Linked DNA regions of Homo sapiens. The protein of the gene in region 1 purifies or fractionates together with the protein of each later gene. This does not show direct contact. Each region holds a gene or a part of one and is shown in the gene's direction. Other genes may lie near its edges.

What was found.
Region 2: the proteins of PPP2R2B (region 1) and MYO9A purify together in Homo sapiens (affinity purification with mass spectrometry; 4 studies listed by BioGRID and IntAct, with this or other methods). This does not show direct contact.
Region 3: the proteins of PPP2R2B (region 1) and PPP2CB purify together in Homo sapiens (affinity purification with mass spectrometry; 5 studies listed by BioGRID and IntAct, with this or other methods). This does not show direct contact.

What each region holds. Positions count from the first base shown.
Region 1 is NC_000005.10:146,875,748-146,883,319, reverse strand, and holds the start of PPP2R2B (serine/threonine-protein phosphatase 2A 55 kDa regulatory subunit B beta isoform), read left to right. Parts: upstream 1-4,562; 5' UTR 4,563-4,729; exon of another isoform or gene 4,730-5,124; coding exon of another isoform or gene 5,125-5,248; coding exon 5,249-5,318; intron 5,319-7,572. UniProt on the Homo sapiens protein: The B regulatory subunit might modulate substrate selectivity and catalytic activity, and might also direct the localization of the catalytic enzyme to a particular subcellular compartment.
Region 2 is NC_000015.10:72,115,142-72,122,831, reverse strand, and holds the start of MYO9A (unconventional myosin-IXa), read left to right. Parts: upstream 1-4,681; 5' UTR 4,682-5,152; intron 5,153-5,619; exon of another isoform or gene 5,620-5,639; intron 5,640-5,665; exon of another isoform or gene 5,666-5,981; intron 5,982-7,690. UniProt on the Homo sapiens protein: Myosins are actin-based motor molecules with ATPase activity. Unconventional myosins serve in intracellular movements. Regulates Rho by stimulating it's GTPase activity in neurons.
Region 3 is NC_000008.11:30,788,810-30,795,833, reverse strand, and holds part of PPP2CB (serine/threonine-protein phosphatase 2A catalytic subunit beta isoform), read left to right. Parts: intron 1-1,552; coding exon 1,553-1,642; intron 1,643-1,755; coding exon 1,756-1,917; intron 1,918-4,518; coding exon 4,519-4,637; intron 4,638-7,024.

The sequences.
Region 1 (7,572 bases):
TTAGTGAAGGCTGGCTCTGAGCCAAACCTGGACTAAGCACTTTCCTTACCTCTGAAGCCACCCAACAACCCTGTGAAGTAGCAACTATTGTTTTCTTCCATTTTGCAAATATAGAGGTTCAGAGATGTTAAACTACTCACCAAAGGTCATGAAATTTATAAATGCCTGAGCTGGGACACAAACCAGGACTGTCTGACACCTAAAGCCTCTATTAAGAATCTCCAGACTGGCTTAGGTCAAAGGTTTTAATAAAATTATAGATATTTAATGTGCTAATTGGACAGGGTGACCCAAAAGTTTCCTGTGTAGGAAGCATTAGCCTAAGGAAGGAAGAGTGGGTATGTGAGTGTTGGGGGAGGGGACCATGACAAGGGTGGTTAAAAAAACGAATGTATCCACATGCTGTCAATACTGAACTGGGTAACATAAGAAGGCTGTGTATTTGTAATTGGCCTTTTCTATGTAAAGCACAAGCCTGAAATAGGTCAGTCTTTCAGAGTTCCCTCTGCTGCCCCCTTTGAAGACTATGGCCCCTTTTACATAAACTGTAAATTAGACACTAAGTTCCATGACATCAGAGACTGACTACATCTTATACACTGATGTTGCTGAATCTATAATCCTATCCCAGTGTCTGACATAGTTAAGTACTTGCACATTTGCTGAACATTGATGATGGTGATGATGACGAAAGTAAATACTCATAGTAATAGCAATGTATTTTTTCCACGTATTATCTCATTTAATCCTTGTAATAACTCTATGAAACAAATACTATTCATTTTCCTAATTTATAGATAAGAAAATGATGCTTTAGGGAGATCTTGTAACTTGCTTGAGGACAGAAAAATAAGTGACAGAAAATGATATCGGAGCCTTGGCACTTAACATTGCACTATAGTCTGTCGATATAGAATGCATTTGCTGTATTGCTAAGAAAGTTCACGTTATTAAAATTAGATGATAGAATTTAAGTTCTATGAAGAAAGAAATTCTGTTTTATATAAATCTATATCCTTGGCACCTAGAGCAATTCTTTTTTTTTTTTTTTCTTGAGAAGGAGTCTTGCTCTGTCTCCCAGGCTGGAGTGCAGTGGTGCGATGCAACCTCTGCCTCCCGGGTTCAAGCAATTCTCCTGCCTCAGCCTCCCGAGTAGCTGGGACTACAGGCGCGTGCCACCATGCCTGGGTAATTTTTTGTATTTTTAGTAGAGACAGGGTTTCACCATGTTAGCCAGGATGGCCTCGATCTCCTGACCTCATAATCTGCCTGACTCAGCCTCCCAAAGTGCTGGGATTACAGGTGTGAGCCACCACACCTGGCCAGAATAATTCTTTACATAATTGCTTGGTAAATTTTGATCGTATATATGCATACAGGAATAAATCGAACCAATTATTTCAATAGGAATACAGCTTATGAGCTAGAAAATTTCCAGCTCACAACAGATTATTTTAATATGAATTTTAAGAAGGGGGGAGGTATGAAACCTAAATATTAAAGTAAGATATTCAGCAATTTATTCATTTGTTTAAGAAATGTTTGTCTCCAACAAATATAATTAAGCATCTACTAAGTGACAGTTAGTCAATAGAAAAGATCTAGTGAGGCCAGGCATGGTGGCTCACGCCAGTAATCCCAGCACTTTGGAAGGCCCAGTCAGGTAGATCACTGAGGTCAGGAGTTTGAGACCAGCCTGGCCAACATGGCAAAACCCCATCTCTACTGAAAAATACAAAAATTAGCTGGGTGTGGTGGTCCATGTCTTAGTCCCAGCTACTCAGGAGTCTGACGCATGAGACTCACTTGAACCTGGGAGGCAGAGGTTGCAGTGAGCCTTGATCGTGTCACTGCAATCCAGCCTGGGTGACAGAGAGACTCTGGCTCAGAAAAATAAAATAAATAAAATAAAAAAAGAAAATAAAAATAAAAGATCTAGTGAAAATGGCCAACAATAATAAGTAAACAAATATTATAAAACGCTGTAGGACATGAAAAAGACAAAAAAAAAATGTGGAGGCAGAAAACACCGGAAGTCAGGACTATCGTGTGGTCAGGGAATGCCTCAACGAAGCAGGGACAGTTAAGAGGCTGAATGCCAAGACATGAGGAAGTGGCAAAGAACATAGCATGCGGAAATGCCCACCACTTTTGGAAAGAACTTGACATTTTAGAGGAAAAGAGAAGTGGCCAGTGAGTCTTTTGAAGACTGATCTCTGCAGCCTACTCCCATCTCCCCCACTCTCTCCCCCACCCCGCCCCCCAGCTCCACAGTGGTGCACAGGGCTCTTTTCACTCCCTTACCTCCACCACAGGTCGTTGTGTTATGGCACAGAGCCAACAGCTTTTTTCCCCTTGGTTTTGGGTGGATGAGCTAGTTCTCTCATATTAGAAAAGAGTAGTTGGCCAAATGGAAACCTTGAAATCTACTTAAACAATGGAGACCTATCCAATCTGCCTTCTCAGAACATGTGTCTTAGGAAAAATGCCTGGACTGTTGAATAAATGCAGGAGAAAGTTTGCAGCATATGTGAAAAGAAAAATAAATAAACCCAGAGACTCGATCTGTGGAAGGGACATTCTCCCCATTGGTTACAATGGAAAATTCCTCAAGCACAGCCTGGCCAATGAGCCTGGGCCTACCTGATTCATCACACAGCTCTGTCCCAATCTAGCCCTTGATTCAGAAAGATACAGGGGAAATTTTCCCAAATACTATTCCAAGGCCTCCTGAAACAATTTTAAGATCATTCCAACCGAAGGCACAATGTCTTCTCATCATTTTGATTCACTAAGAGATGAACTTAGCTTTTCCCCACTCTGCTCCTACTCCAAATTGTGCCAATATCCAAGAGAAGCTGCAATGTGTAACTACAAAAGGACTGAATGTTGGAACCTCGGTGATAGATACAGCTCATCCCATGGAAGAACCAGCCACGACAACTTGTACTGAAGTGGATTAAATCAACTTGTACCCGTCTTCACCTGTTACTAAAATTTTAAATGTGGATTTTGAACAAACAAGTGTATAAGTCTTAAGCACTAGATGAAAATAAAATAGAATCTATTGAAAGTTGAACTGAACTCCCCCCACCACACACACACACACACACACACACACACACACACACACACACACAAAATAACTATGTCAAGGAACATTTCTGCTCTTTTCTCCCAGGGATATGCAGTCAATTTCTGGAGATGAGGAAGATGTCATTTTCTATCTACCAGAAGTATCCATACTGCATGGAAATCTAATGACAATTCCCAACCTCAGTTAAGGACTTGTTTTTCCATTTTTCTGAACTTCAAATACTTTCTAAATTGTGTTAGCCGAAGCATTGTATGTATATAATTAACTCATAGGTCCCTCTGGGCCCATCTAGCTAAACTTGTGGAGCTTAACTGAGCAAAACATTTGCTGATGTCTCTCCCTACAGTGGTACCCATTGAAATGAATACCTTCTACAAGATGAAACCTAGGAAATGTCGTTTCCAATTGGCTTTCTACTGATTGGGGTTGATGTCTTTTCCAAATTGGCTTTCTAGTGATTTGGGTTGCTTCATTAAATGTTTTTGGTTGTTTCATAACAATAGTAATCTCATTTTCTTTCAAAAGTAGAGTTTGAAATTTGGGAAAACATGGGTGGGGAGGGAATTCTACATTTTCTTCCTAGTTGAAGTAGGAAGACAGGTCTCTTTTCTGTATTAATTGGACTCCTGAAATTCCCCCAGGGTAGCAGTGGCTCTCTGTGGGCACAGGGCTCTTATGCTTATGTTTCTGTGCTTCAATGTACCTTCCATGCTGACAGCAAATAGAAGGTGTTCCTGCACAAGCAAAACCTAACGGAGAGGCTGCAATAATTTGTCCAAAACGAAGTGCAAACTGCAAGGGAGAGTGGACTTTTTCAGACTGATCCTGTTTACTAGTCTGGTGCTTTCCTCCACCTGTGTAGACACAGATGCTTTATTGAACACCAGCCTCCTACAGTTAGAAGGTATTTTGACTCTTAGGAATGGGGGAACCAGTTGCAAAGTTCTGGCCCCTGATCCCCCTCCTATTCCTACTAGAGGGCTTAAGATAGGCTCTGAGCGGCACTTCCCACTTTCTCCTCTTTTTCTGAAGCTTCGAGCCCCAAACCTCGCCCTTTAAATTCACCAAGGGACCACATGCATCATATAAGGGTGAGGAAAAGGGACCTGGATGTAGACTTCCTGACTATCCAAAGGAACCTACTTCTCTTTGCTGTTCTCAAGTTCAGGCGTCCGGAGAAAGGCAGGGAGCTAGGGGCTCTGGGTGCTAGCGTAGACGTGGCCCTTAGCTGAGTGGCGCGAGAGGGGAGGAGGTTGGAAGAGCGCGTCTATGCGTTCCACCTGAACCTGCAAGCTAGTCGCTTGCTGCCCAGGTGCCGATTCGCGGCTGCATGCGCCCCACTGCAGCAAAGAGCAGCCGCAGCCTCTGCCTCGGCCACCACTGCTGCTGGGAAAGAGTCGTGGGGCTGCTGACGCGGTTGGGAGGAGCCTCGCCTTTAATGCACCAGCCGCCTCCAGCCTCCTGCAGCAGCAGCAGCAGCAGCAGCAGCAGCAGCTGCGAGTGCGCGCGTGTGGGTGTGAGGGTGAGTGCGCTGGCGCCGGCTGCAGCGCCCTGCCCAGCTCCCCGCCAGCTTCCCTACCCCCGCCTGCCGGAGCCGCCCTCCCGTGGGACCAGCACCCTCATTCCGGCCAGGCAAGCCTGAATCCTGTCCCTGCCATCTCGCCACTGCAGCTCGGGTCCAGAAAGGCACCATTTTGTCGCGGCTGCCCGCTCTCCCAGGGGGAGGAGGGATCTTTTTTGCATTTTGGAGCGGCTGCCAAGGAGGGGAACCTGTTGGGCATCTCCCCAGACCCGCTTGTGAGCGCCTCCGGGGCGGGCGGGCGGGACCAGACCCCTCGGGGCACGGCGTATCTTGGCACCCGGAGGCAGCGGAGGCAGGCGCAGCATCCTCGCTGGGAACTGGAGCTGGAGTGAGCGCACCGCGCGGGAGGAGCCGCCGCAGCCTCGCAGAACCCGAGTGGAGGAGGTGACAGCTCCATTGCCGGGTTTTTATTTTTTTTCTCTCCGCCTCCCCGTCTCCTCCTCAGGCTCGGACCATGGTGCAGTCCCACTGGCTCCCCTGCCCCCCTCTCCTGTGAGACTGGCTGCGGGGAGGGATCATGGATACTTGTCTGCCGGCTTCTGGTTCCCACGCAAGTAAGCCTGCTGTCAATGGAGGAGGACATTGATACCCGCAAAATCAACAACAGTTTCCTGCGCGACCACAGCTATGCGACCGAAGGTAACGCCAGCCCCGCCGCATTCCGCCGTTGGGGCCGGGCGCAAGTTGCGGATCACTGTGCTTCCTGGGCAGCTGGGCGCGTAGTGGCGGAGACTCCTCCGGGCCCTAGGGCTGGGGCGGGGGCTCGGCTGGCCCCGGCAGCCCCAGTGCACCTCGCATCCATCCGGGCTCCGCGAGGCGAGCTCGGCGTTCAGCAGCAGGTGGACCCGGCGCCCACGGGAGTTAAAATGGCCCTCAGGGATTAGGCTTTTTCAGGGTGGGGCTCTCGCCCAGAAAGATGACCCCAGGAAGGCAGATGACCCCTTCCCCGAGATGTTCGCAGGGGTCTTGGGGGGAGATAAGAAGGGAGGGGCCCAGTAGGACCTTGGTCCCCCCTCCCTGAGCGAAACGATGTTATGTCTCTCAGTGGCTGCAGGGAGGGCAAGGTTTCATTTCCTGCCCATTCATCTCCCCGGCCGGCCAGGTTACCTGCTTAGACAATCAAAACCCCAAAAAGCCCTTTGCAGACGGGCGAACCTCTTTCCTTTTGGAAGTGCATTAGCAAAAATAAAAAGGTGGCTGGGGAAATAGTGCTCTGGCGGGCAGCGAATGAGGCTGACACGTGGGGTGAGCAACGCGATCGGTGGGGCCTTTAAAAATCACCATTATGAATTCTGCAGCAGTAGTTTCTGCTGAATCAACAGCCAGCAGAAAGCAAAAGGGTTCAGCAAGCTGAGCTTTGCCAAGAGGTGAAATTGTCGTCTCTCCCTCTCTCCCAGCTTGTTCTGACATAAGCACTAGTGCTGTGCGGGCAGGAAGGGAAAGTCAGCAGGTGGAATCTCATTCTGCCTTTTGTGTGTGAATAGAGAGTAGAGGCATTTTTTTCCCCCAGTGCCAAAACTTTTGCATTTTTGCTTTCATTTTCTACCTGTAGGCCTTTTATCCTTAGCCACTCATACAAAGTGTTGCATTATCACATTGTAATATCCATGCGAGAAAATGTATGTGGAAATGCTTTAGGACAATGTTGCAAGGTGTATTAATTTAAAATTATTATTCTTGGATGCTAACATTTCTGTAATATTTAATCAAATCAAAAGACTGCTAGAGAAATGTGATGGGGGGAGTAAAAGAGTTCAAGCTCTGAAAGAAATAAAAAGACACACACACATCTGGGGGTAAAGGTGGCATCTTCTATAAACATCCCTGGAAGTTCTAGACAGAAAGAATGTCCAGTGCTATTGAAAGTATATTCTCCATTTGTCATCATTTTTGGAGAGCATCAAGCCCAGTATGCCCATGGTGCTAGACAGATAAAGCAGAGTTGTAAGCTCTGGCTTCCAGGAGCTTAGAGATGGCTTTTAAGATGTGCAGCCCATCCCTCCCCTATACAGAGCACCATACTTACCGATTCTTTTTCTGTGCATGATGGCAACCTGATTGTAAGATGTTCTCCCTCAATCTTAGTGCTTTGTCACTGACTCAGTGACCTGATAGCACATGACTAACTCTGTATCTAAGCATGTCATCCAAGAGAGAAGTTGGCCTTGGGTCTGTTGGCTTTTGGGGGAACATTTATTTCTGTTTGTAACCACAAAGAAAGAGAGCTGCCTTCATGTTTTCTTGTATATTACATTATGCAGGCAAGAGAAACTTAGCAAGCTGAGAAAATGCCCAGAGTGGAGCTATGTGTACAGGAGTGTCAATTGTGAAGTGAAGAAATCAGTTAAAAATGGCATTCTTTATTGTTTTCAGGGCCCTGGATATTACCGTTGTTCTTATTTTTATTCCATTTTTGAAAACTCTGATTCTGGATAGAATATCTAGGTTCACATAGTCAAAAATAGATATGAGTTTATAGCAATGAGATTTCTGGCATGTGAGAATCAACCTCTCAGATTTCTTTCTCTTTCTCAAACACACACACATACTAATCACACTCAAAACTAACAAACCTTTATTTCACAGAAGCTTCTAGGTTTTAAAATCTGATCTTAGAGAAGGTATGAAAAGAAAAGGAAAATAGAACTTAAACGATGTAAATACCAGAAGTTGGATAGAACAAGAAGTTCCCTACAGTTTTGACCTATTCGTTTCAGGGAAGATTCATGCAATTTTGTTGCCAGAGGGGGAAGAGTCCCTGTTCTTCCAATGAATTCCTTAAGAAGTGTTAGTATACCTTGAAAAAGCACCAGATCAAAAGACTTTTTAAAAATTCTCCTCACTGGGGACTTGCCCCACAAGTTTTCTTCCCCCTTATTAACTTATACCCTCT
Region 2 (7,690 bases), on another chromosome or scaffold:
AGAAAGGAACTTTCAGAAATTTTCTGTAAGTAATAAAAATTATTAAAAAGCCTCATAAAAGTATTATTTCTGATTTCAGATAGACCCACTCCTCCTCCTCCCGCAAAAGGTGTCAGATAGCTGAACCTCAAGTTCTGCATAAACTTAATTCTTCCTATCACCACCCAAATGGCCTCCAATTATTTGATGGACAGAAAGTCAATATAGGCTAGTTATGTTGAAGAAGGTGGTAATGGTGGCCTCTCTGAGAACCTAGTTCTGGAAGTTAATTTTATAGGACTCATTTGGATCAGTAATACCTAAACCCCAAATTCAATTTTTTAGAATACATTTAAAAAGTACATACTTTGGGTACTAGCTGGATTTGAGCAGTAAGTTTCTATAGTCCGGTATTGATCAGTTTCAAAGGAGATGGGTTGCCTGGGCCTTGAGGACTTCACATTCTTTTGCTAATGTGTTTAAACTAAACTTCTTTCCCATCCAAGAAGTTTAAGGAATTGGCAAAAAGAGAGGAGTTCTGACTTTTAAAAGTCAGAAATGTAGGACTCACAGGTATAGACAGGTATATAGACAGTACATACTTTGGGTACTAGCTGGATTTGAGCAGTAAGTTTTTATAGTCCGGTATTGATCAGTTTCAAAGGAGATGGGTTGCCTGGGCCTTGAGGACCTCCCATTCTTTTGCTAATGTGTTTAAACTAAACTTCTTTCCCATCCAAGAAGTTTAAGGAATTGGCAAAAAGAGAGGAGTTCTGACTTTTAAAAGACAGAAATGTAGGACTCACAGGTATAGACAGGTTCTGACTTTTAAAAGTCAGAAATGTAGGACTCACAGGTATAGATGGAGTTTGACTGAGGAAGGCCTTGGCAAGATCTGTGAACTTATGGTAAGGCCATTGCTTTATTAGAAGTACTAACAATATCATTTATAATACAAAAGACTGGGCTAGCCTCTTGACCACATAAAGTTAACTGACTCCCACACTGGGGTATATATTCCTGTTGACAGGTATGCCATTTATTCCAATGTATGTTACTCTAGACTGGTCAGCACATTGTGGAAATAAAGGAATTTAGCAGACTCTAGAGATCACCTCAAGATTTTTTTTGGAGACAGGCTCTCTGTCACTCAGGCTGGAGTGCAGTGGCATGAACACTGCAGCCTCGACCTCCTGGGCTCATGTAATCCTCCTGCTTCAGTCTCCCGTGTAGATGGGACCACAGGCAGGCACCACTATGTCTGGCTAATTTTCTTTTTTTTTTTTTGGAGAGACACGGTCTCACTTTGTTGCCCAGGCTGGTCTTGAACTCCTGGGCTCAAGTGATCCTCCTGCCTCAGCCTCCCCAAGTGCTGGGATTACAGGCCTGAGCCACTGCACCTGGCCCAAGATTCCATTTTTCAAAAATTAATTAACTTATTGTTCTAGTCTCTTCATTCCTATCTTCTCTTTTGATAATCTAACCTGCACATTATTCTAGATTTTCAAACAGAACTCTAATCACATTATTCTACTCCAAAAAATTTTAACAACCCTCCATTGTCTACCAAAGTAACTACAAATTACAGCCTGGCATTCAATGATTTCCACAAAAATAGCCCCAATCTACCTTTCCTGATTTATTTTCTGGTATTACTCTCACAGACATATACACCCACAAGCTCAGTCCCTCTGCAGGCCCTGGTTATTAGGAAACAGTGGGATAGTACTGGTTGCTGCCCCAGAGCCAGCCTCTCATCCCAGCAGAGAGGTTGGGAAGTGAACACTGCTTCATCATTTTTCTGAAACACAGATTTGATGTCATGCTCTTGCTTAAAACCATTATACTGAGATATTTTAAAACTTAGGATCCATAGACCAGGATGTGGCTAGAATATCAGGGTTCTGTGAACTTAGACTGGGAAAACAATTGCATCTTTGTTTTCAATAATCAGTAGCTGAAATTTAGCATTTCTTCAATAAGTGTGGACCACAAACTACAATATTAGCACTCTCTTTTTTACCAATAGAAATCTGATATTTTCACATCACATTAAAGTTGCTGCAGGCATTTCAAAATATAATTTATAGTCATCACTACTTAGAAATTATATAATTAGACCTGCTGCCAGATTTTATTTAATGCATAAAGTGCATATATATCACACATTTGTTTTAATATTTTAAAAACTTAACAAAATTAGTTTCCTTTATATTACTACGTATTCTATTTTATATATTTAAGAACATTTTTCTGAGACTGAATCTATAAGGTGGACTGCCAACAAGGTCCACTGGGTAAAAGAGGTTAAGAACCTTTTTTGTACTTATTAATTACTTCTAGTAATATAATCTAAACTCTTCACCATGGAATTCAAGGCTCCTCATAATCTGTTCACACCCACTTTATCATCTTCATCTCTGTCCCACCTCTACTCTCCATACTATGCTCTAGCCATACTAGACAACAATAACTCGTTCTTATCTGGGTCTGATAGACAGGTTTTTGGATTAACCCTAGTTAATAGATAGCAGCCATACACTGTCTTGGTCTTTACCTCATACAGCTTCTCTGCCTGCCAAGTGAATTCTTTGTTTAAAGGCCTGCTTTCCCTAATACGGTAATTTTCCATCCTAATTGAGCTGTATTTTAAATATCTTTATATCTCATTACTAACTTAAATGATAAATAATAGAAAAAGATTCTAAATTGGCAAGGCACTGTATGTAGTAATCTCTATGAGAGTGGATGTTGGTCTTTGCATCTCATAAATTGGCTTAGCTCTGGATGTTGGTCTCTGCATCTCATAAATTGGCTTAGCTCTGATCATTTTGGGGACAGAAGTGGGGATGGCCTTTGAGCTTTAAGGCTGGAGACAACAGCTGACCAATCCTGGACGGAAGGGAACGGGAGAGCAAAGAGACAAGTAACTAATTTGGACCTGATAAACACTGAGGAATGAACAGTGCTGAAGAGAAAGGCAAGAGTGGCTCCTTCTCCCATTTCCCAGACCAGTTATTCCAAACATAACGCCGCTCAAGTTTCTCATTCCATCTCCAAGCCTCTCTGTAGTTAAATGACCTCCATCTTTTTTTTCTGGGGGCGGGGACGGAGTCTCGCTCTGTCACCCAGGCTGGAGTGCAGTGGCGCGATCTTGGCTCACTGCAAGCTCCGCCTTCCGGGTTCATGCCATTCTCCTGCCTTGGCCTCCCGAGTAGCTGGGACTACAGGCGCCTGCTACCACGCCCGGCTAATTTTTTGTATATTTAGTAGAGACGAGGTTTCACCATGTTGGCCTGGATGGTCTCGATCTCTTGACCTCGTGATCCACCCGCCTCGGCCTCCCAAAGTGCTGGGATTACAGGCGTGAGCCACCGCGCCCGGCTAAATGACCTCCATCTTAATGTTACAGAGCCAACTGTCTCAACTTCCTTCTCTCTAGTTTAGTGAGTCTCAATCTTTAGCATTAGAGTCACCTGTGGAGCTTTAAAACAGTAATGACACCTGGCACAACCCAGAATTTAATTGGTCTAGAGTGGGGCAACAGTATTGGTTTTATTTAACAAAAAGTTTCCCAGGTGATTCAAATGCACATACAAGGTTGCGTTCCACTAGTGATCTTGATCTTATAAATTAGCCTCCCTCACCCTCGAAGAGGCCACTTCTCGGTTTCATGGTACGCTTTTGAGTCTTCTACCTAAACAGAAAACATTCCTGAGGGCCATATTCTCGTTCCTCATTTCTCTAACTTTATAACGATGCTTCTTTAAAGGGAAGTCTACACTAGTACGGTTTCCATCAGGTTTATTTTACTTCTTTTTTCTCTTTCAGACCACCACTGTCACATGCTCTTGCGCCCGTTATTCTGCTTTTACCTCCTTTCGTATTTCTTTGACCAGGTACTGGATTACTAGTCTTTTAACACAGTCCTCTAAAAGTGACCCAAAAGTCACCCTGGAAAGGGCTTCCTCACGTTATCCTCCTACACAACCTGGGACCCCTCTTCTGTGCGCAGACAGCATCCCGTGCATTTTTCTCTATTGTCACTTTATTGTACTACCACTGCGGATTCTCTCACGGTCTCCTATACAAAAGCACTTCAAAAAGCTGACACCACTTAATTCGCCTCTGACATTCTGGAACCCAAGGCATGGAAACCACTCAGTGAAAAGTCTGAGAAATGAATGGAAACGGAGGTCGGGGCGGGGACAATGGAGGGGGCAGTGGGTGGAGAGAGCGTGCGTGTTTGAAAAGGGGCGGGGGCTATGACCGGCGGCGCTGAGAATCCAGGTCCAGAATCGGGAGGGAGCACGGATACGCCAGAATCTGAGTGGGTGGGAGAGCGATCCACTGCCGAGACAAACCGAAGTGGGGAGGAGGCTTCTTACCTGCCTCGGGCCTCACCACCCCAACCAGCCTTCAGGCACCTCTGTGTTGGCCGGAAAGCGACAGCTACGGTCGCAAACTCAGAGGTTTCGTCCCCAACCTTGCGACATCCCTTTCCAGTACAGGGAGAATCTAAAGCTGAGTTCCCTGCTCTGCCGTAAGGTGAAGAAGAAAAAATTTGGGCGGGGCCGCCTGGGGCGTAGGAAAGGGGGCGTGTCTGCGCAAGCGCACGCTGTACTCTCCAGTGGCGTCACGTGCGGGGGCGGGACAGGGCGGGGCCGACCCGTGCTGGCAGTAGGGGGCGTGGGAGGTAAGTGCGCGCGCGCCTGCTCGCCTGCAGCCGGGGAGTCGCGCGGGGCGGGGCCGCGTGCGCGGGGTCGGGGGCGCGCGACCGAAGCGGATAAGGGACGCGGCGGCGGTTGGCTGTGTCTGTTGAGAGAGTACAGGACAGCCCGGACTGCGAGAGGCGGCGGCGGAGGCAGTAGTTGCACCGGCAGAGGCGGCCGCTGGCAGCGGTTGAGGCGGCGGTCCAACGCGTGCTCTCTGGGCGGGGTGCGGCGGGGGATGTGCCTGCTCAGGCCGGGCGGAGTCTCTCTGACAGGGCGGGGGATGCGCCGCGGCCGCTCGCCCGGACCCTGAGGCTGCTGGGCCCACCCTCCCGGAACCGTCCGACCCTCGGTGGCCTCGGCCTCTTCTGCCATCTCCGGTCCTACCCTGGGGCGGAGGGTGGAAGGCAGCTTCCGTCGAAGAGGAGGGGGCTGCGGTGGCCACCGCGGCGGAGCCCGAGGTAAGACCCGCCCAAGCGCCCAGCGGCCCTGCAGCCCGTCCTGGCCCACGTCTCAGCCTCGCTATTTGGCTCCGGTCGGGCCGCCCCGCCCCGTCCCAGCGGAGACGCCCCGCGAGCGGGTCTGCGCCGAGCCTCCCAAACACCAGATCACGGCCCCGGATCCCCAGTAGACCCCACCCCCTGTATCTTCCATTGGCCGGGCACCATTCCGGCCCTCCAGCCTCCCCGGAGATTCTGTCACGGTCCCCCCAACCCAGCAGACCCCATTAGTACCCCTCAGAGTCCCTTAGGACTCTTAATGGAGCTTCTAGACTACGTTACATCCTCCCTTGGGCTGACGTGATTACAGTTCTCAGGCAAAGTCTCGACCGCCCCCTAACCCATTGCGTCCCCCATGTGCCCCTCGCCCTACTCTTCTTAGTAGAACCCCTCCCAGCTCGCTCATCACCAAGCCGACTAGCACTAACCCTAGCCATCACGGCTTTCAGATAGCCGCTGTCATGGTGTTCTTACTCCCGGTAGATGTGGTGTCAGTCCCTCTAGACACCGTCACAGACTTTGGCTTCTCTCCCACCACCGACTGTAGCCTCTCTCAACAGACCTCTCCTCAAGCAAACCTTGTTATCTTTCTCCTTAGTCGCGATCCTTTCTTTGGTTGAAAGGGCTTTGCCATGAAATCCTGAGGGAATATTTGCTTAGCCTAATGTATTCCCTCCATTGTGGCTTAAGGGGACCGACCGAGACCCATGTTTGGAGGGGTTGGGCTGAAAAAAGTGGGAGGCAGAGTGAAGTTATGGAAGCATGAGGCCAGTTGTGTGTGTGCCATTATAAGGTCACAGAGCCTGCACCTCGTCTTGTCTGTTCTGTGTAGAACGTGTGAGGTTGTCCAGCACTGATGTTTTAGGGACCTCTGTAAGGATTAAATCACGTTGCACTAGTGGATATAACTATGTCGTCTTGTAGTATTACTTCACCTCCTTGTCGATTGCTGCAGATACTAGAACTGTTTCTTATTTTTATTTTTAAAGGATACTAGGGGACTTTTTTTGGATTCACTGTTTTTTGGATTTGCTAGAAAAATAAGATTTGTAGCATTCCTTAATCCCTGAATGCTTCGATGTCGGTTTAATAATAAACTTCTGTTGCCTGGTGCTGCTGTCTTGCTTCTCCAAGAAGCAAGTACAGAAATCATGCAGTGTTCACTGAGGTCATTACCAACAACAGCCTTCTCAATAGCAGTAAAATGTTGAATAAAATGTTTGTAGAAGTTGAGCTCCTGAGTTGTCAAGAAAGAAATGTAATGTTGCATCAAATGATCAGTACGTAATTTTAATATTGGTATAAAGATGAAATATAAAGAGGTCTTTGTAGTCATACACACACACACAGTAAAAAATGTTAAAGTAACAGGAGAAAATCACATTAAAATTATAGATAATAACTAGACGTAAAAGCCAAAAGTTTCGGAAGAGTAATGTAGTAAAAATTTCTGTTCCGCCTTCACTCTCCAGCCACCCATTTTTCCTCTTTAGAGGCAACCACTATTTCCAGCTTCATGTGTATCCTTTCTGTGATATTTCCAATATATAAACCTACACATTTATATTTTTAAGACACTGTACACAAATGGTTGCATACTTTACATTCTATACATAGCCTGTTTTTTTTACTTAATACTACATCCTAGAGGTCATTTCTTAACAATACATATGGAAGTGCCTCATTTACTGGCTGGATAGTATTCCATTTTTGTGGACTGGAGGTTATTTTTGGTGTTTTGCTTTTACCAACAATGTTACATGCTTTTCTTTTAAATGTGTCTGATGTTATATGTATGTTTAAATAATTTTGTGAGTTGAAAAAAATTCCTGATGATTCTTTTATGTTGAACCTACAGAAAGGATGTAACTAAATTTCTCATTGAACCTCTGAGCTTCCACAGTGTGACTAGCTGTGATGATGATTATAATATTTATTAAATTATTGAAGGATTTTAAAGCAGGGGACTGGAATGATCAGATTTGCATTTTAAAAAAGTCATTCTGGCTGCAGTGAATTGAAGAGTAGAATAAGACTAAAGGCCAGGAATATTAGGGTTATCCAGGCAAATGGTGAGACTGGATCTGAACTTGGATATTCGGAGTTGAGTTGGTGATTTTATTGTATTTGGGGTTGGGGAGAAGTTGCATACAGGATAAAATCTAGGTTTCTGGCTTGTGCCTTTCACTGAGGTGGGGATTCCCATGAAGGAGTGGGATTTTGTTTTTATTTTGTCAAGGAGGAAGGATAGAGGGGTTAATTTGTGACATGTTCAGTTTAGGTGACTGTAGTTCTGTCAGATGTAGATGACCATTAGGCATTTGGATTTGTGGCTGAAGCTCAGTATCAGGTTCTGGGTTGATAGCAGTAGATTTTGGAGGCAAAATCATACAGAAGGGAGGAGAAAAGGTTTTAGGATGGAAACCCAACATTTAAATTACAGGTAGAGTTGAATATTTAAATTAGTAAATTACATGATTAAGTGCCTTTAAAAAACTT
Region 3 (7,024 bases), on another chromosome or scaffold:
GAACAGGTGCAGCTTTAGTGCACTAAGTTTGAAAAGCTGAATGAAGCTTACTATAGTAAAATACCAGTTATTAAAATTGGCTTGCAGAAATTCGTCCAATATAAGTAAACAACCAATAGCAACCAGGTGTAAATAGTTTTATAGGCTAATTCTACCAAACCTTTAAGGAACATATAATTTCTGTGTTCTAGAACTTGGGAAAAGATGGAGAGTTCAAAACTCACACCGTATGCCTAGTATAACCTCAATGCCAAACCAGACGTGGCACGCACAGAAAAATAAAATCAGACCAAAGTCATTTGGAAAAAAAATTCCTATATTTATGATTCAAAACTCAGTTATTTTATAAAATAATAATATTAAGTGGATAAAGAAACGCCAGTTGTACTATCAGCTAAACATTAGAAACCTTCTCATCAGGCCAGGTGAGGTGGCTCATGCCTGTAATCCCAGCACTTTGGGAGGCCAAGGCGGGCGGATCACCTGAGGTTGGGAGTTCAAGACCAGCCTGGCCAACATGGAGAAACCCTGTCTCTACTAAAAATACAAAATTAGCCAGGCATGGTGGCACATGTCTGTAAACCCAGCTACTCAGGAGGCTCAGGCAGGAGAATTGCTTGAACCCGGAAGGCGGAGGTTGCGGTGAGCCGAGATCACGCCATTGCACTGGGCAACAAGAGCGAAACTCCGTCTCAAAAAAAAAAAAAAAAAAAATCAAAATCAGAAAGAAAATGCTTGTTAAAACTTACGTTATTCTCTCTGATTCAGAATACCTAGAGCATGGACTTGAAACTAGGTAGTTTACAAAAAACAAAACAGAAAACATTTGTATTATTCCATTTTATTTTAGAAGTCCTGGCCAATGCACTAAGCAATAAAAAGAATTAAAACGTATAAACATTGAGAAGAAAAAACAAAAATAGTTTTGCAAATGACTTGATTATGTACTTAGAAAATATGAAGGAACTGAAAATTTATTGTAGCCAGTAACAGGAATCAGAGTGTTTGCTGTAAGAGAAACAAAAAATTGTATATATCAGCAATAACCAACAGAAGCTGTAATGACAGCTGGGTACAGTGGCATGCACCTGTAATCCTAGCTTCCCAGGAGGCTGAGGCAGGAGGATTGCTTGGGCCCAGGAGTTCATGGCTGCATTGCGCAGTGATCAAGGCTGTGAATAGCTACTGCTCTCCATCCTCAGCAGCACAGCAAGACTCCATCTCTACAGAAAGAAAAGAAAGGAGGGAAGTGGGGAGGGAGAAAAAAAAGAAAGAAAGAAATTTAATGGTAGGTACCAAGGATGGGGATACCATTGACCAGAGAAAAGGAAGGGAGGGAGGGAGGGGAAAAAAAAAAAAAGAAATTTAATGGTGGGTCCCCAAGGATGGGGATACCATTGACCAGAGAAGGGGTAAAGAAGAAAAAATGATGGACAAAATATGTTTAAATGTTGGCACTATTTGGACTGACACTTTTAACCATTATTTACTCTTTGTTAACTGTTTGGAGTTAGTAAAACAAATACATTCTCTTTTGTTAATTCATACATAGATATTCTGCCTCCATGGTGGCCTCTCTCCATCCATAGACACACTGGATCATATAAGAGCCCTGGATCGTTTACAGGAAGTTCCACATGAGGTAAACTTAATTTAAAAAAGAAGAAGAAAGGAAAAGAAAATATAACCACATTTTGAGGATGATAAAGTATGACTGATAATAATTTGTAACATGTACTTATTTTTCTTGGCCAGGGCCCAATGTGTGATCTGTTATGGTCAGATCCAGATGATCGTGGTGGATGGGGTATTTCACCACGTGGTGCTGGCTACACATTTGGACAAGACATTTCTGAAACCTTTAACCATGCCAATGGTCTCACACTGGTTTCTCGTGCCCACCAGCTTGTAATGGAGGTATGTACTTTCCTGACAGAATGATCTTTATTTCAGATTAGTATATACTTCTGTAATAAGGCATTATGACTTAACTAAGAAACATTCCTCACCATTTATTACCTAGGTGAAAAGAGGAAAAACTTGCTGGTTTTAGCAAGTAGGGAAAGCACTAGTAGACCAGAGCAGAATTATAACTCATTTTTGAAATTGAGACTTAGAAAAAAGTTACAAAAATAGTACCCCATAATTCCCTGTATGCTTCATTCAGATTCCTGACTGTAAATATTTTACTATATTTGCTTTATCATTTTGTGTCTCTCTTCCTCTTCACCCCTCACACTTTCTTCTGAACCATTTGAATATCTGTTGCAGACAGATACTCCTTTACTACCAACTTTCTATGTGTATTTTGTAAAATTAAGGACACACTGTCACATAACCACCGTATAGTTATCACAGTTGGGAAATTTGTGTTCATATAGTACTGTTATTTAATATGAACACTTTATTCAAATTTTGCTAATTGTCTCACTAATGTCTTTAATAGCAAAATTTAATTTTTTGTGCATACTGTATGTGCATAGTCGAATCCAAAGATTAGGTTGTATTCATTCTACTTTGATGTGGAAATCCTCCGATTTTCATTGTTTTCCACATTCTTGACATTTTGGAAGAGTAGGAGCATTTTATCTTACAGAAATATCCCTCAGTTGGGGTTTGCCTGATGTTTTCCTTGCAGTTAGGGATTCAATGTATGCATTTTTGGCAGTCATGACATAGAAAGATGGTGTGTCCTCCTCCGTGCATTGTATCAAGTGGTCCTAAAATCTGCTTGTCTCAATGCTGGTGGTGGCAACTTTAATTGCTTAGTTAAGATGATGTCTGCCAGATTTCTCCACTATAATATTAACTGTTATACAACTACTAAGGGAACATAAACAACATAATCCCTGCAGACCAGTAGGGAGTGGCTTCAAGATGTTTAGAGAAAACTTCGCCAGCCCAGTAGAAACAAGGGAGCATGATAAAAAAAACACAAATTTACATAGTAAAAATAAATTTAATTATATCAGTGATTATAAGAAAGAGACTAAAATTTTAGCCTGAAAGAGACTCTTAGATTGGATAAATAATCAAAATTTAGCTGTTATTTGGGATGTACCTAAAACATAAATGATTGGCTGGACAAAGTGGCTCATGCCTATAATCCCAGCACTTTGGGAGGCCGAGGTGGGAGGATCTCTTGAGTCTTGGAGTTTCAGACCAGCCTGGGCAACATAGTGAGACCTCATCTCTATATAAAAAAAAAAAAAAAGTCAAAAAGTTAGCTGGGCATGGTGGCATATGTCTATTGTCCCAGCTACTCAGGAGGCTGAGGTGAGAGGGTCACTTGAGGCCAGGAGGTTGAGGCTGCAGTGAGCTATGATCGTACCGCTGCACTCCAGCCTGGGCAAAAGGGTGAGACCTTGTCTCAAAAAAACGAGGAAAAAGAAAAAGACACCACAAACTAGAGGTAAGAGTTGGAAAATGGTATATTGGTATATCAAGTAATTAATCAAAATATCAAAAATATAGCTAATGAGCTGGCGTGGTGGCTCGTGCCTCTATTCCCAGCACTTTGGGAGGCTGAGGCAAGCGGATTGCTGGAGCTCAGGAGTTCGAGACCAGCCTGGGCAACATGGTGAGATCCTGTCTCTACTAAAATACAAAAAATTAACCTGGTGTGGTGGCACGCACCTGTAGTCCCAACTACTCGGGGCTGAGGCAGGAGAATTGCTTGAACCCAGGAGTTGGAGGTTGCAGTGAGTCTAGATCGCACCACTGCACTCCAGCCTGGGCAACACAGGATGTGTGTGTGTGTGTATATACACACATACATACACTAATGTATGTATATATATGTATACATATATACACACATGTATGTGTGTATACATATATGCACACGTATATATACACATATACACACGTATACATATATGCGCACACATACATGTATACATACATATATACGTGTATGTATATACACATGTATATACACATGTATACATATATGCACACACATATATACATATATACACGTATATATACATATGTATATACACATACATTAATTAGCATGTATGTATACACACTATATATAATACTATAGCTAATAATATGAATGAGATAGGCTCTAATAAAAGGTATTATTAGAAATAAAGAGATTATTGATGAAAACTGGCCCAGTTCTCTAGGAAGAAAGTATTCTAAATTTGTATTTACCTAGTAATAGCTTCAAAATATATAAAGAAAAAATTGGCATAATTCATGAGGGAAAATTGAGAAATTAATTATGATTGTGGGAGAAATTCAGTACACATCCTTGCCAAGATTTCAAGCATAGATACGGCAAAACAACAATTAGCGAGCTGCATTTAACAGACTCCTAGGCCCACGAATTGCACAGTATTCTTTACAGGTACACAAACTATTAAAGATGGAGACCTTATATAGTAATATAGACGACTACATTTCCACAGAGAGTACCTGTAGTTTTTGAGTTTAGTTTTTTTTAAATGTGTCTGTGTCAAAATCATAATATTATAATGAAATAATGAATTTGTTTTTATCCTGCAGGGATACAATTGGTGTCATGATCGGAATGTGGTTACCATTTTCAGTGCACCCAATTACTGTTATCGTTGTGGGAACCAGGCTGCTATCATGGAATTAGATGACACTTTAAAATATTCCTTGTGAGTAACTGTAAATTTTAATTGTATATACTTTCAGAAGGAAAATTTTAAATGTTAAAAATAGAAGATTTCTGTTTCTGAAATTGGATGAGGAGTATAGCAAAGCCCCTCTCCAGCAAAAATAACCATTAGCTGGAGAACATTATTTTTAAAAAATAATTTTTCAAAGCTTTTGGAAATTGTCCTAAGGGCATACAGCAGGTGGAGAAACAGTTAATTCAAGAAAACCTACTAAATCTCAGTAATAATAGCCGTAGTCTGTGGCATTTGAGCTATGACTTGCCCCCTCCAACTCCTCCCAGATCCCTCTCACAGAAACGACTACAGGCGCTCTACGCTGGGTTGGTATAGTCAGGAGGCTAAGGGATTCCCCCTCTTCATCAGCTCCCAGGGCTGGGGCTGTGGGTTCACTCCCAGAGATCAGATGCCAGCATATCTCACCTCTCCTAGTCTGGAGTTACAAAAGCTCTACTCCTGGTAGACACAGTCAAGCAGGCTGAGGCCCCCTTCCCTGCCCCAGCTCCTGGGGCAGAAGCTCTGCTCCAGGCATGCATGGCAGATGAGAATGCTGGGTTTCCCAATGCTGTTACCCCAGCACCTGCTTATAAACCAGGTGGTATCACTGAGCCTGCACTGGCACAGAAGTTCTGCTCAGGAGGAAAGGCAGGTCACAGAAGTTCCTCAGCTCTGCCTCAGAGGACTTATCTTACTTAGGTGATGGAGAATTCCAAATCTGAGTGCTTTGTGGAAAGCAGTAGATGTCATGGTGGAGACCAATTAAGAGGGCTGTAATAGCTCCCATGATACTAGGAGCAACATACAAAAGAGCAGAGCAACATGTTGTTCAACAAATAGCACCAGGGAAAAAGCCAAGAAGAGCCCTTCTGGGATCACAGTCAGCCCTGGGGGACAAGAAGGCTGTGCACATGCACTAGCCATACCCACTCAGGAGCAGTCAAGAGTAGGATGTGGGGTATTCATATAATATTTTCAAGCCACACATAGATTGTACTGAGTTGAATAATGTCCCCCCAAAAAAATTCATGTCCACCCAGAACCTCAAAATGTGATGTTATTTGGAAATAGGATCTTTACAGATATAATTATTAAAGATGAGATTGTACTGGATTAGGGTGGGCCTAAATCCAATTCGAATGGGATTTTAGTAAGAGGAAAAGAAACACACACAGGGGAGAATGCTGTGTGAAGCCAGAGATTCAAGTGATGCATCTACCAGCTAAGGATTGCCAGAGCCATCAGAAGCTAGGGAGAGGCTAGGAAGGATTTTTCCTAGAGCCTTCAGAGAGAGCGTGGTCCTCCCAGCATCTTGCTTTCAGACTTGTAGCCTCCAGAACTGTGAGAGGATAAATCCCCGTTGTATAAGCTATACAGTTCGGTAATTTGTTACGGCAGCCCCAGGAAATGGATAAGTAGATTGATCAACAAATGGTGTAACCATCACTAGTATGTGAGGCTTAAACACAACCTCTCATCATTGACTGAACGACATTCAGTTACTCTGATCCAGGAGCACCTCCTAGGTAGTCAGGCTTTAAAATAAAATCACACTCATCCCTGACAGTCTGGCAGAATATGTGCATGCCCAAGGTTATACCCTCTCTGGACTGAGTGCAGTATGAAGATCCAACTATTAGTCCCTGGCTGAATGGGAAGCCAAAATATAAACTCCTTCAGCTTTGATAGCAATCTGCAAGTCACATAACATTTCCGGTGGCCATTAGGGTGAGCTTTAAGATCTAACTGGCCAAGGGGGCTTAAGTACAATCTTTGATCAGTAAGTGGCTTATGCCTACCCAGAGACAGCCCCTCAGTAGCCAGGCTGTGAAAGATTAAAAGAAGTAAAAACGGTCAGGCACGGTGGCTCATGCCTGTAATCCCAGCACTTTGGGAAGCCGAGGTGGGCGGATCACCTGAGGTCGGGAGTTCAAGACCAGCCTGACCAACATGGAGAAACCCAGTCTCTATTAAAAATACAAAATTAGTTGGGTGTGGTGGCGCATGCCTGTAATCCCAGCTACTCAGGAGGCTGAGGCAGGAGAATCGCTTGAACCTGGGAGGCGGCGGCGATCACGCCATTGCAGTCCAGCCTGGGCAACAAAAGTGAAACTCAAAAAAAAAAAAAAAAAGTAAAAACATCCGAGCAGGGCCACAGGGGCTGCACACTATGGGGGAAGTAGACTTTACAGTTAGTTCAGCTAAGTCACTAAACAAAAATAATAAACCACCAAAAAGACAAGATCAGTCCCCAAGGACATGAATTCCAGAGCTACTGCAATATGTTATCTATAATGTCCAATTTTTCAACCACAGATTATAAGACATGGAAAGAACAAGGAAGTGTGACCTCTACACAGGAAAAAACTAAG